Regions from separate parts of the Homo sapiens genome. Here regions 1 and 3 are each linked to region 2. The links come from fine-mapping of genetic effects on gene expression. A gene starts in region 2. Each other region holds a variant in brackets. All regions are shown on one strand. Distances are from middle to middle.

Region 1 (4,243 bases), 24 kb after region 2:
GTAGGGGGTGTGCATGTCACACTGGGTGTGTCTAGAAGGGTTGTGTGTGTGTGCTTAGTGGGTGTAGTAGTGAGGTTGTGGTGAATGTGAGTTATACAGTTGTGTTTGTGTACATTGTGTGTATGACAGTGGTATGTGTAGCAGTGTTGTGTTAGGGGTGTGTGTGTAGTGGTTACTGAATAAGAACTATGTGAAGGACAGATGCTTTCTTTATTGAATTAAAACCTGCCTGGGTGAGAGAGAGACAGAGCAGCAGAGAGACAGAGGCAGAGACAGACAGGGAGACAGAGGCAGAGACAGAGAGACGGGGAAAGACAGAGACAGTGGCAGAGAGACAGACAGAGGCAGAGTATCATGAAGAGATGAGACAGAGACAGTGGCAGAGAGGCAGACAGAGTCAGAGACAGAGAAGCAGAGAGAGATGAAGAGAGACACGAAGAGAGACACAGAGAGGCCTGGAATGTCCTGTGTGATGCCGGCCAGGGGTGCCTGTTGTCTCTCCTGCAGTCAATTCCTCTAAAGTCCCAGCCTCCTTCTTAGAGAACCTATCCTTGGCCTCTTCTCAGACTGAACTTCTCCAGTGAGTGGGCAGCCGCCTCCAACTGAGCCCAACTGTGCAAGGCAGGTTCTTCGGGGAATTCAGGACTCACAGGCTCTGGTTTGGGAGTGCCATTCACGAATGTCCACAGGGTCCAGGCCAGCCTGTAGGCGAGCCACACAGGCTGGGGGAGGGCACAGAAGTGGTGTGGGCTGTGGCAGACCCACGAGGGGATGACCCAGAGGACGCCTGGGCACCAGGCCAAGCCAATTGGGTCTGCAGGCAATACCGCGGGGCTCCTGGTCTGTGCGCTCAGCACATTCCTCTTCTGTTGCGTGAACTCTTGAAAGGGCAAGTGAGGTAAAGCCATGGTCACAGAGAAAGGGAGTCTGTGGAGACAGAAGAGTAAGTGGGTCTGCAAGGCAAGGGAGAGGGAGGGACCTGTGGGTCAGGATAGGTACAGTGGACTGAACTGTGTCCCTCCAAAACTCGTGTGCTGAAGCCCCAACCCCTAATGTCACTGTGTCTGGACATGGGGTCTTTAAGGAGGTAAATAAGGATAAATGAGGTCCTAAGGGTGGAGCCCCAATCCAATAGGAATGGTGTCCTTATAGGAAGAGGAAGGGATGCCAGGGATGGGCGTGCACAGAGAAAGCAGAGAAAGGACCAAGTGGGGAAAGGGTGAGAAGTCAGCTGTCCGCAAGCCAAGGAGAGAGGGTCAGAGAAACCTTGATTTTGAGTGCTTACACCTCGATCTTGAACTCCCAGCCTCCAGCACTGTGAGAAACACATTTCTGTTATTCAAGCCACCCAGTCTGTGTATTTTGTCTTGGCAGCCCAAACAGACTCAAACAAGAAGTAATGGTTGTGATGTCTTTGCAGGCCCTGGTTCAGTTGTACCATTCAGTCAAACATTTGAGCAGTATTGAGTGTTGCAGGGTGTCCTAGGCTCTGAGTCTACAGCAGGGAAACAAGGAGCCTGCTCTCATGGAGCTCACAGGCTCAAAGGATGCAGCCACATCATTGGACCTTTCAGTAGGTTCCCTGTGCTGTTAAAGCTCCCGTGTGTGCACGTGATTCAGGCTCCAACAATTCCTGGCCAAGATAACAGCACAGAGGCCCTGGACCACCTCTGGGTGTTCTGTACAGTGGGCCCTTGGGGGCCTGGTCTTTCACCCACTGGGGTGCAATATAAACCCTCTTCAGATGCCAGAACCAAATGAGGGTTCTGGGCCCTCAAAAGCCTTGACCACAGGCAATCATAGCTGCTTTTTTTTTTTTTTTTTTTTTTTT[TG/G]AGACAGAGTCTCACTCTATTGCCCAAGCTGGAGTGCAGTGGCACCATCTTGGCTCACTGCAACCTCCGCCTCCCAGGTTCAAGCAATTCTCATGCCTCAGCTTCCCGAGTAGCTGAGACTACAGGCGTGTGCCACCACGTCCGGCTAATTTTTGTATTTTTAGAAGAGACAGAGTTTCGCCATGTTGCCCAGGCTAGTCTCGAACTCCTGGCCTCAAGTGATTCACCTGCCTTGGCCTCCCAAAGTGCTGGGATTACAGGCACAAGCCACCGTGCCCAGCCCCATACCTGCTTTTAAAGGGGAATTTTATTCTAAGTCAGAAAATTCCAGTGTAGAAGGAAAAAATCCATAGCAAGAACATCATATTTCCCTTTATTTCTCAATTTCCTCTTCTACCATCTTCTCTAGAAATGAAAGACCCTTAGATTAGAGTAATTTTCAAAATGAACTTTCTTCTGTCAACAGCATTTTGATTGAAGTGGTAAGGATGATGTCTACTTTGGCTTACAGTAAAAACCCTCAGCTAACTTCTGTTAGCTAGCTGAATGTTAATACCTAATATTCTCACCAAAACAAGACTGCCCTCAAAAAGAAAATAGACTCTACTGTAAAATAAATCAAATTAAATAAAGTGACACCATCAAATGCTGACAAGGATGCAGAGGACAGAAACTCACTGGTTGCTGGTGGGGAATGCAAAATGGTGTAGCCACTTTGGAAAACCATTTGGCACTGTCTCCTCCAGTTAAACAGATACTTCCCCTATAACCCAGAGATGCCAATGACCCACTCATAGGTATTTACCAAAGTGAATAGAAAACTTATGTTCGAACAAACAAAAACCTGTATGGAAATGTTTCTAGGAACTCTACTCATTTTTTTTTTCTATTTTTTAGTGACGAGGTCTTACTCTGTCACCCAGGCTGGTGTGCAATGGTACGATCACAGCTCAATGCAGCCTCGACCTCCTGGGCTCAAGCCATCCTCCGCTTCAACCTCCTGAGTAGAGTAGCTGGCACCTCAAGTATGTGACACCATGCCTGGCTAGTTTTTAACTTCTATTGTAGAGATAAGGTCTTGCTATGTTGCCCAGGCTGGTCTCAAACACCTTCGCTCAAGCAACCCTCCCATCTCAGCCTCCCAAAGTGCTGGGATTACAGGTGTGAGCCACCATGCCCAGCCTTGTAGTTCTATTCATAATTACCAAAAGGAATGAGCTACTGATACACACGACAACATGGATTAATCTTAGACTCATTTTGCTAAGTGAAAGAAGCCAAACCCAAGGCCGGGCATGGTGGCTCATGCCTGTAATCCCAGCACTTTGGGAGGCTGAGGCAGGTGGATCACGAGGTCAGGAGATCCAGACCATCCTGGCCAACATGGTGAAGCCCCGCCTCTACTAAAAGTACAAAAATTAGCTAGACGTGGCGGCACGCACCTGTAGTCCCAGCTACTCAGGAGGCTGAGGCAGCAGAATCGCTTGAACCCAAGAGGCAGAGGTTGCAGTGAGCCAAGATTGCACCACTGCACTCCAGCCTCGCAACAGAGTGAGACTCCATCTCAAAAAAAAAGAAGAACAAGAACAAGAAGCCAAACCCCAAAGTCTACATGTGTAATTCCATTCATATGACATTTTAGAAAAGGCAAAACTACAAGGACAGAAGACACATCAATGGTTGCCAGGGACTTGGGGGAGGGGAGCAGTTAATTGCACAGGGACACATAGGGTGACTGTATTAGTCCATTTTCACACTGCTGATAAAGACATACCCGAGACCGGGAAGAAAAAGAGGTTTAATTGGACTTACAGATCCACATGGCTGCGGAGGCCTGAGAATCATGGCAGGAGGCGCAAGGCACTTCTTACATGGCAGCAGCAAGAAAAAATAAGGAAGATGCAAAAGCAGAAACCCCTGATAAAACCATCAGATCTCATGAGACTTATTCACTATCACGAGAACAGTATAGGGGAAACCACCCCTGTGATTCAAATTATCTCCCACCAGGTCCCTCCCACAACACATGGGAATTATGGTAATACAATTCAAGGTGAGATTTGGATGGGGACACAGAGCCAAACCATACCAGTGACTTTCACAGTGATGGAACTTTACCTATGGTACTGGGATAGTCGATATATGGTGATCTACACAATTGTCAATTTCATACTTTATTTTTTCATACTGCACGAACTTTATTGCATGCCGATTAAAAAATAATCAAACAGCATATTTAAGACCTAATATGGAAAACAGACTGTGATAAATGAATCTAACCTTATTCTAAATGTGTGATATAACCTCACTAAAGGGGCTGAGGGAAAAGGAGGTGACCTAAGTAATTTTGAAAGCTTGTATTTTAACCAGAAACTGTAAGGCTAAAGAACTATATTAAGCACTGTACTCTA
Region 2 (4,243 bases):
AGCTTCCTGTGCCTATAGTTTTATGCTAAATTGATTCTGACATTTCAGGCAATTAAAAGTAACTCCAATTAATTCACCATAATTTTGGCTGATTGCTAATCTAAATGTCCACAATTGATAGGCTAGCCCTATACGTCAATGAGGTAAGCACAGAAAGGAGTCATGGTTTTGAGGAATGCCTATGGGTTTATTCTCCACCATAGCAATGAGATGTCAACTGTGATTGTGCTCCATAAAATATAGAAACTGTAGGTAGTCTAACGCTGCAGAAGAAACTCCTATTAATATAAAGATAAACCAATTAATCTAACCTACTGAACATCAGTGGTCTGTTAAGGAGTTCCACCAGCGAGGTGAGAGACTGGCAATTTTTTTCTCTAAAGAGCTAAATAATGAATATTTTAGGATTTCCAGCCACGTGGTCTCGCTTACAATTACTCAACTCTGTCTGCTTCTGTATGGCAACAGCAGCCACAGACGATACAGAAATGAATGTGTGCGCTGTGTTCTAATGCAACTATGGGCACTAAAATTTCTTGATTTTCATGTGTAACAAAACACTGTTATTTTGATTTTTTAAATCCATTTACAAATGTAAAAATCACCCTTAGCCAGGCGCGGTGGCTCACGCCTGTAATCCCAGCTCTTTGGGAGGCCAAGACGGGTGGATCACGAAGTCAGGAGTTCGAGAACCAGCCTGGCCAACATGGTGAAACTCCGTCTCTACTAAAAATACAAAAATTAGCCGGGGGGTGGTGGCATGCGCCTGTAATCCCAGCTACTCAGGAGGCTGAAGCCGGAGAATTGCTTGAACCCGGGAGGCGGAGGTTGCAGTGAGCCAAGATCGTGCCACTACACGCCAGACTGGGTGACAGAGCAAGACTCCATCTCGAAAATAAAAATAAAAATAAATTAAAAAATAAAAAAAACCACTTAGCTCACTGGCTAAACAAAATCAGGTAATTGGCCTGTACCTGACAGTCAATTTCTGGTCACTAATGATGACCACATATCCAAATTACAGTAAAGGTACCCAAGAGAGACAAAGATTAGAGATTAGTGTTACGATCCCCGTTCTGCCAGCACTAGGAGACAAGAGTTGCTACAGCCCTTCCGCGGGTTTAAAAGGCGGTCGACGTCCCTCAACCTCTTGCTATGCCTGAAAACAACCGAGTAAAAGGCATCCAAAGACCTGAGAACGCAAGGTTTCAGGAAAACAATCAGGAAGGGCAAAACATGGGGCAGCCACTACACAGCCCCTCCGTCTTAGGGCACAGGTACTAAACGGGTTGTAAGAGACCCAAGTCACATCCTTCAGAAACGTGCTGGCGCGGGCCCAGGCAGACAGGGATTCCACCCCGGCGAAGGCCGCAAATGGCGCGAGGCGGGAAGGCGCAGGCTCCACCTTCCCCCGTCCCCAGATCACCTACAGTGACCTGCGCGTACAGGCAGGCTAGGACCGCGGGCGCTCAAGGCAGACATCAGGCCCGCCGACGTCTCCGCGCCGCCCGCCCGGCCACCCGGAGAGCCTGCTGCCCAGCGCCTGGCAGCGCGGACAACCTCTCTCGGGGAGGTGATGACGGTCCCTCGCGCCGGAGGGCCCAGGGAGGAAAGAGATAAGCAGAAAGACACCAGGGAAGAACACCACGCTTCGGACCAACGCCAGCCACAGCCACTGAGAAGTCGCCGCATCCGGCGGCGCCGACACACGTTTCCAGGGCTCTTGAGAGACCATACCCTGGGAGTCTCGCGGGATCTCACTTTTCTCGGCGGCGCAGGGAATGAGACAGATCGCGGGAATTCCACCCGCGCCGGGAGATGGTCTGGTGACTTCGCGGCTCCTCCCACGTCTCTCTGGGCAGTCCGCCTTGCGCATGCGCAGGCGGCGGTGGCAAGGCTACGGTTCGCGCCAGCGGCCGGCGCTATGGGGCTGAGCCGCGTGCGGGCGGTTTTCTTTGACTTGGACAACACTCTCATCGACACGGCCGGGGCGAGCAGGAGAGGCATGTTGGAGGTAACGTCCCCACCCATGGCGCTCCTCTGGGCGGGGTCAGTGCGCCCCGCCCCGTCCTGCACGCTCACCTCCCCTTGACCCCACTTCCACCCCGGCGCCGCGGGCCGCTCTTGCTGGTTGAAACCTGTGGAGCGTGCGGGTGCGGAGGTGGCTGGAGGCGCGCGGGCCCTGCGGGTCTGCTTTCCCTGGCCTGGCGGCCGCTTGTCACCCAATCTCGAGCCCTGGAGCGGCTGCTCGCAGGTGCCTTGGCGCTCGGGACGCGGAAGGGCTCCGTGACGGCTGCCACGGTGGCGGAGGTGCCCGTGGGCGCGGGAGGCGACAGCAAAGCCGCGAGACCAGGCGCTGGTCCCGCCCCCGGTCAGACTGTCGGTGTGGAGCTCGACAGAGGGTCGTGTCCCCCATGCGACTTTCGGGGTTGCTGGGAGGAGACATGGTAGAGTTAGCCCCAGTGTTGACCCAAGAAGGGACACGGCTGTCAGTACCGAGCCTGGACTTAAGCCCTGCTTTAGAGAATTGTCGCCGCAGAACTTCTTCTGGCCTCCCTGGCGGGGTGGTGGTCACCGTGGCTTTCTGACACGTGACACAGCAAAAGCCCGTGCTGCGAGGGCATGCCCTTCCTGAGGCGCTCCTCCGCGGCACTGCCCCTCTACACGCGCGGAGGCGCTTTCAGACCTTCCCGTGTTCCAGCCCCAGTCCACCCCGGCTTCCCTTTCTCTACCTTCAGCTTCAAGGGGAAAGGGAAGGATTTATCAGATGTGGAAAACTCACTTTCAAAAGCTAATTCATCCAAACCTGAGCGCCCCGTCCTCTTCATGCTTCATCAGTTAGTTTTTGTGTCCCTGGATCTTCCACTACCTCATCCGTTTTCTTTTTAGCTGCATTCCACTCCTGCCGCATATTCATGTTTGCCCTATAGTTTTAAAAAAGCTGTAAAAAGGATGCCTCCCTTTGGGCTATTCTTCCTGCTGTAGATGTTGCCTGTCTCTCTTGACAGCCATGTTTTCCCGGAGAAATCTATACCCGTTATCTCCTTGTCTCTACCTCCTATTTATTACTAAATCCATCGTAATGTCGCTTTATCTTCACCGCTAGACTGAAATAGACTTGCTGGATCACTAGGCATTCCCAAAATGCCGGAATCAGTAGACATTTTTAAAGTCTGTCTTCATGACTTTACTGAGGCATTCCACACTTTTAACTTGTTGGCCTCCACCTCAGGGGTGCCACCCTGTGCCATATTGCCTCCAGTATCTCTCGCTGCAGATGTTACATATTTACCTGTGTGTTATTAGTAAGCTGAGTCCTGTGCATTTCAATTAAATTATTGCTTTAGGCCAATTCTTGCTGTAGGCCCAGAGTTTGGGCTTTAAAATCAGACATTTGAATATGAATCACAGCTCTCCCAAAACCTAGCTGAAAGTGCCTCAAGGAATTAACCACTCGGAGCCTTATATCTTCATAAAATGTGAATTATATTAGTCCTCAATAACCCTGTAATACTTGGGAAGCCCATGGTTGCAGTGTCCACTCAGCGAACTATAGCACCTTCCACCCTCGTACGCTGTCTGTCCACCACTGCACATGCCCCGTGCATGTCTCAGTTACAGCTGAACTCATCTCTCACCTAGACTGTTGCTGTGGGCTTGTCTCCAGGTTTACCACATCCAGTGTGTCCTCCACATTCTTGCCACAGCAATATTTTTAAAACAAAGACTAAATCGTATGCCTCCCTGGTCTTTACACCCTCACTTATAGTAGTGCTGTATTTTGTTCAGATATTTCTTAATGCATCTGTCAAAGGATATTTCAATTAATTTTGCAACTCAGGTGCCTACTACTAAATAGTGAGCTTCTTGGGAGGGAACAAGCTGTCTTAATTATCCTCGTTTGACACATGGCAAATGTTGAATAAATGCTGGATGGATGGATACAAATTTTTACTTCGAGACTTGGTTCTATTACTGCCTCCTTTATAATTACAAATCATTGTAAATAATTTATGAATGGGCCGGGCGCGGTGGCTCACGCCTGTAATCCCAGTACTTTGGGAGACCGAGATGGGCAGATCACGAGGTCAGCAGATGGAGACCATCCTGGCTAACACGGTGAAACCCCGTCTCTACTAAAAATACAAAAATTAGCCGGGTGTGTTGGCGGGCGCCTGTAGTCCCAGCTACTGGGGAGGCTGAGCCAGGAGAATGGCGTGAACCCGGGAGGCGGAGCTTGCAG
Region 3 (4,243 bases), 44 kb before region 2:
AAGCTGTTAATGTCTTGAGTACTTTATAAAATGCCCAGAGCTTGAGTAAACCAAATAAATTCTTTTTCTCTTTAGCACAGTTAAGACTGTTAGTGTGATGACACTTACAGATTCTATGTTTTTATTTTTGTATGACTTTCATCTTTTTGTGTGTGTTTCCTATTATTTCATCTGAGGGAAAAAAAATAGCCTAAGAATCAGGGGATGAGGATTTTGGTTGTAGGCCTTTTATGATAATTACCCTTCAGTGGTAGTATAGAAAAATATGTAAATTTGCTGTGTTTCAAGGCTTCAGAATACCTCAAAAGAGGAATCTAATGCAACAATGTTTGTAATGCTTCCAAAGCTCTAAGAATGGGGATTTTTTGTGTGAATAGGTCAGAACAGGATTAAGGTTTCCTGGGTTAGGGTAGTCACATTACAGTAGGATCCTTAGGTCAATGCTGACTTTTATTCAGGGTAAGGTTATATTTTGTGTGGTTTGTTTTTTTTTTATAGGGAGGGACATAGTAGGATCAGTGATATGCTAAATTTTGTCATGTTCTGCAGTAATGAATCCATTTAAGTAATGGGGCAGACCCTTTTCTCAGTAACATGGCAGTTGGGGCATAGGTGAAGTATGAGAGGCTAAAGCTTGCTCTGATTATCTCTTTTTGTTTTCAGTTTTGTTTGCCTATATTGTTTTTGTTTTACATTTTGGGAAGGGAGAGATTTTCCATTAAGTAAGATTTTTGCTGTGGATTTGATTCCAAGGGACTGGGGTCTCAGAGTGGAGGTGGGCTTGCGGTATGATCCTTGGCTACTTAACCTCCACCAAGAACATGTGGTGCCTCTGCCTTTAGGAAGATATTTTGTTCTCTCGTTCGTTCCACAGGCCACCTCAGATACTCTTTTGAATTGCTGTTAAGAAATACTCACAAGCATTGTTTCCTGCTCTTGTTGCGTGAGGTTTTCCAGTGTTTTATGCAGTCTTTTATTAGATTACATATTTTTACTCAGAACAAATGCTTCACTGTCATCTGAGCAGGGAGTACTCCTGTGGCTCAGTGTTTTGGCTCACTTTGTTTTCTCCAGCCTTGAAGGTCCCTCCCACACACACACACACATTGACATCCATTCATATCTTGATCTGACCTAGATGCCACCTGGTCCCTAAAGCCTCCCAGCACCCTTTCTGCTGCATCCCTAGGGCACCGGACTTTTATCTCTTCTATTGCCCTTGTTAGGTTCTCCCTTGTGGGTCAGTCATTTGTATCTGTCTCCCTGCCCATCACTAATTGTACAACCATAAAAATTAAGACATTATTCCCCTTGAATATACCAGGGCCATATGTTATTTATCCTTATAAATGATACCTATTACTTTATTTTATTTATGTATATACAGTATCTCGCACTTGAACCTGTGATTAATCACCTGAGACCAATGAATCCCCTCTGTTAGAAAGTATAGTTTAAACAAAGCTTTTAAAACCCACATTATATGACCTCAAGGTTGTTAGCCTAGTCATCTAATGGTGATTCAAAACTCTGATTAGCAGCTTTAGATTTCTTGATTAAAGACTTAAATAAACTAAGTTTTAGGCTTTTTTTTTTTTTTTTTGAGACAGAGTCTCACTCTGTCGCCCAGGCTGGAGTGCAGTGGTGTGATCTCGGCTCACTGCAACCTCCACCCCTCCAGGTTTGAGCAATTCTTTGCCTCAGCCTCCAGAGTAGTTGGGATTACAGGCATGTGCCACCACGCCCAGCTAATTTTTTGTATTTTTAGTAGAGATGGGGTTTCACCATTGTGGCCAGGCTGGACTTGAACTCCTGACCTCGTGATCCACCTGCCTCGGCCTCCCAAAGTGCTGGGATTACAGGTGTGAGCCACCGTGCCCGGCTTTTCTTTTTTTTTTTTTTTTTTTTGAGACAGAGTCTCGCACTGTTGCCCAGGCTGGAGCGCAATGGC[A/G]CCATCTCGGCTCACTGCAATCTCTGCCTCCCAGGTTTAAGCAATTCTGCCTCAGCCTCCCGAGTAACTGGGATTACAGGCTCCCACCACCATGCCCAGCTAATTTTTTCTGTATTTTTTAGTAGAGATGGGGTTTCACTGTGTTGGCCAGGCTGGTCTCGAACTCCTGACCTTGTAATCCGACCACCTCGGCCTCTCAAAGTGTTGGGATTACAGGCCTGAGCCACCGCAACTGGCCAGTTTTGGGCATTCTTTAAAAGGGGTTCTTAGTGAAAAGATTGGAAACTATTCTATTTAGTGCTCAGTGAAAATACTTTGAATTAATGTATATACCAGTTATTGCCATTTGCCTATTTAATTCAGAAGTTTTTTTAAATAAATAGCAATTTTTCAATCTTGAAAAAAAAAAGGAATACAAAACCTGAACAGACTAATAATAAGTAATGAGGTTGAATCCATAATAAAAAGTCTCCCAACAGTGAAAAATCTAGGACCAGATGGCATTGCTGCTACATTCAACTTATAAAGAACAACTAACATTAATTCTCAAATTATTCCAAAAACATGAAGAGGCACGAATTCTTTCAAACTTGACCTCTGAGACCAGCATTACTCTGATACTAAGGAAACAACAGCCAAAAAAAGTCCCTAATGAACATACAGTAAAAATCTTCAAGAGTACTAGCAAACTGAACCTAGCAACACATCAAAAAGATAATATACCATGATCAATGGAATCTACCTCAGGTATGCAAAGGAGGTTGAACATATGCAAATCAATAAATGTGATATATCACATCAACAGATTGAAAGACAAAAACTATGATCCTCTCAATAGATGCAGGAAAAGCATTTTATATAAGTTAACATCCCATCCTGATAAAAACTGTCAACAAATTAGGCATAGAAAAAACATACCTCAACATAATATAAGCCACATATTACAAACCCACAGCTAACATCATAATGAATAGGGGAAAGCTGAAAGCCTTTCCTCCAAGAACTGAAACATGAATCAAATGCCTACTTCCACCTCTCTTATTAACATAGTAGTGGAAGTCTTAGAATCAGGCAAGATAAAGAAATAGGCATCCAAATTGGAAAACAGAAAGGCAAATTATCCCTCTTTACAGACAAGATGATCTTAAATATAGAAAATCCTAAAGACTTCACCAAAAAACTTAGAACAAACAAATTCAGTAAAGTTGCAGGAGACAAAAATCAACATACTAAAATCAGTAGCATTTCTATACACTAATAATGAACTAGTTGAAAAATCAAAAAAGCAATCCCAACTATAGTAGCTACAAAAAAATTAAATACCTAGGAAAAAATTTAACAAAGAGATAAAAGGCCTAGGCAATGAAAACCAAAAAATACTGATGAAAAAAATTGATGAGGACACAAACAGAAAGACATGCCACGCTTAAGGAGCAAAAGAATTAATGTTGTTAAGATGACCATACTACCCAGAGCAATCTACAAATTTAATGCAATCCTTATCAAACTACCAATGACATTCTTCACAAAAATAGAAAAAATACTCCTAAAGTTTGTAAGGAACCACAAAAAATCTCAAAATAGCCAAAGCAATGTAAGCATAAAGAACAAAGTGGGAGGCATCCTTTCTATATATACTAAACCAATGAAGAGAATAAATAGCACAGAAAAACATTCATGTATTTACAGCCAACTGATTTTTAACAGTCACCAGGAATATACATTGGGTAAAGGACACTGTCTAATAAATGGTACTAGGAAAACTGGACAGCCATATGCAGAAGAATAAAACTATACCCCTATCTTTTACCATATGCAAAAAAATCTGCTAAAAACAGATTAAAGACTTAGTGTAGGACCTGAAATCATAAAACTGCTAGAAGCAAACATAGGGAAAATGCTTCAGGAATTGGTCTAGGCTAAGATTTTGTGACGGAGACCTCAAAATCACAGCCAACAAAACCAAAAATTGACAAATGGGATTATATGAAACTAGAAAGCTTCTGCATAGCAAGTAAAACAACAGAGTGAAGAGACAACATATAGAATAGAAGAAAATATTTGCAAACTATTCATCTTGTAAGGGACTAATATACAGAATATACAAGGAACTCAAACAACTCGACACAAAACCCAAATAATCTAATTAAAAAGTGGCAAGGGATCTGAATAGGCATGTCTCAAAAGAAGACAGACATACAAATAGGCAACAAGTATATGGAAAAATGCTCAACCTCACTAATCATCAGGGAAATGCAAGTTACAATGAGAGATCCCCTTACCCCAGTTAGG

Alleles and levels. Alleles are on the strand shown, and positions count from the first base shown. SD is a standard deviation of normalised expression in the study named. Not every link is listed here.
For the expression in rectum of the gene that starts at base 1,859 in region 2, G is the low allele of the variant in region 1 and TG is the other (moderate effect, 0.59 SD a copy in CEDAR).

The links. PIP is the estimated chance that this variant, and not a neighbour inherited with it, causes the effect. A credible set is the group of variants that fine-mapping cannot tell apart.
Region 1: its variant is the best candidate, but not a certain one, in a credible set for the expression of NANP in rectum (CEDAR, PIP 0.55).
Region 3: its variant is the best candidate, but not a certain one, in a credible set for the expression of NANP in whole blood (TOPMed, PIP 0.65).

The regions. Positions count from the first base shown.
Region 1 is chr20:25,597,363-25,601,605 of GRCh38, reverse strand. No RefSeq gene overlaps it. Among named protein-coding and RNA genes, the nearest start is that of NINL, 14 kb to the right of the region's middle. The variant TG/G (reference allele first, on the strand shown) is at 1,832.
Region 2 is chr20:25,621,630-25,625,872 of GRCh38, reverse strand. It overlaps NANP (N-acetylneuraminic acid phosphatase), which reads left to right and starts at 1,859. Exons shown (of 2, transcript NM_152667.3): 1 at 1,859-2,014. The coding sequence starts at 1,925. It overlaps ZNF337-AS1 (ZNF337 antisense RNA 1), which reads right to left and starts at 1,828. Exons shown (of 4, transcript NR_126465.1): 1 at 1,738-1,828. RefSeq lists enhancers at 1,770-1,939, 1,911-2,586 and a silencer at 2,110-2,169.
Region 3 is chr20:25,665,461-25,669,703 of GRCh38, reverse strand. All of the region lies in intron 2 of ZNF337-AS1 (ZNF337 antisense RNA 1), which reads right to left. It also overlaps the pseudogene MED28P7. Among named protein-coding and RNA genes, the nearest start is that of ZNF337, 29 kb to the left of the region's middle. The variant A/G (reference allele first, on the strand shown) is at 1,952.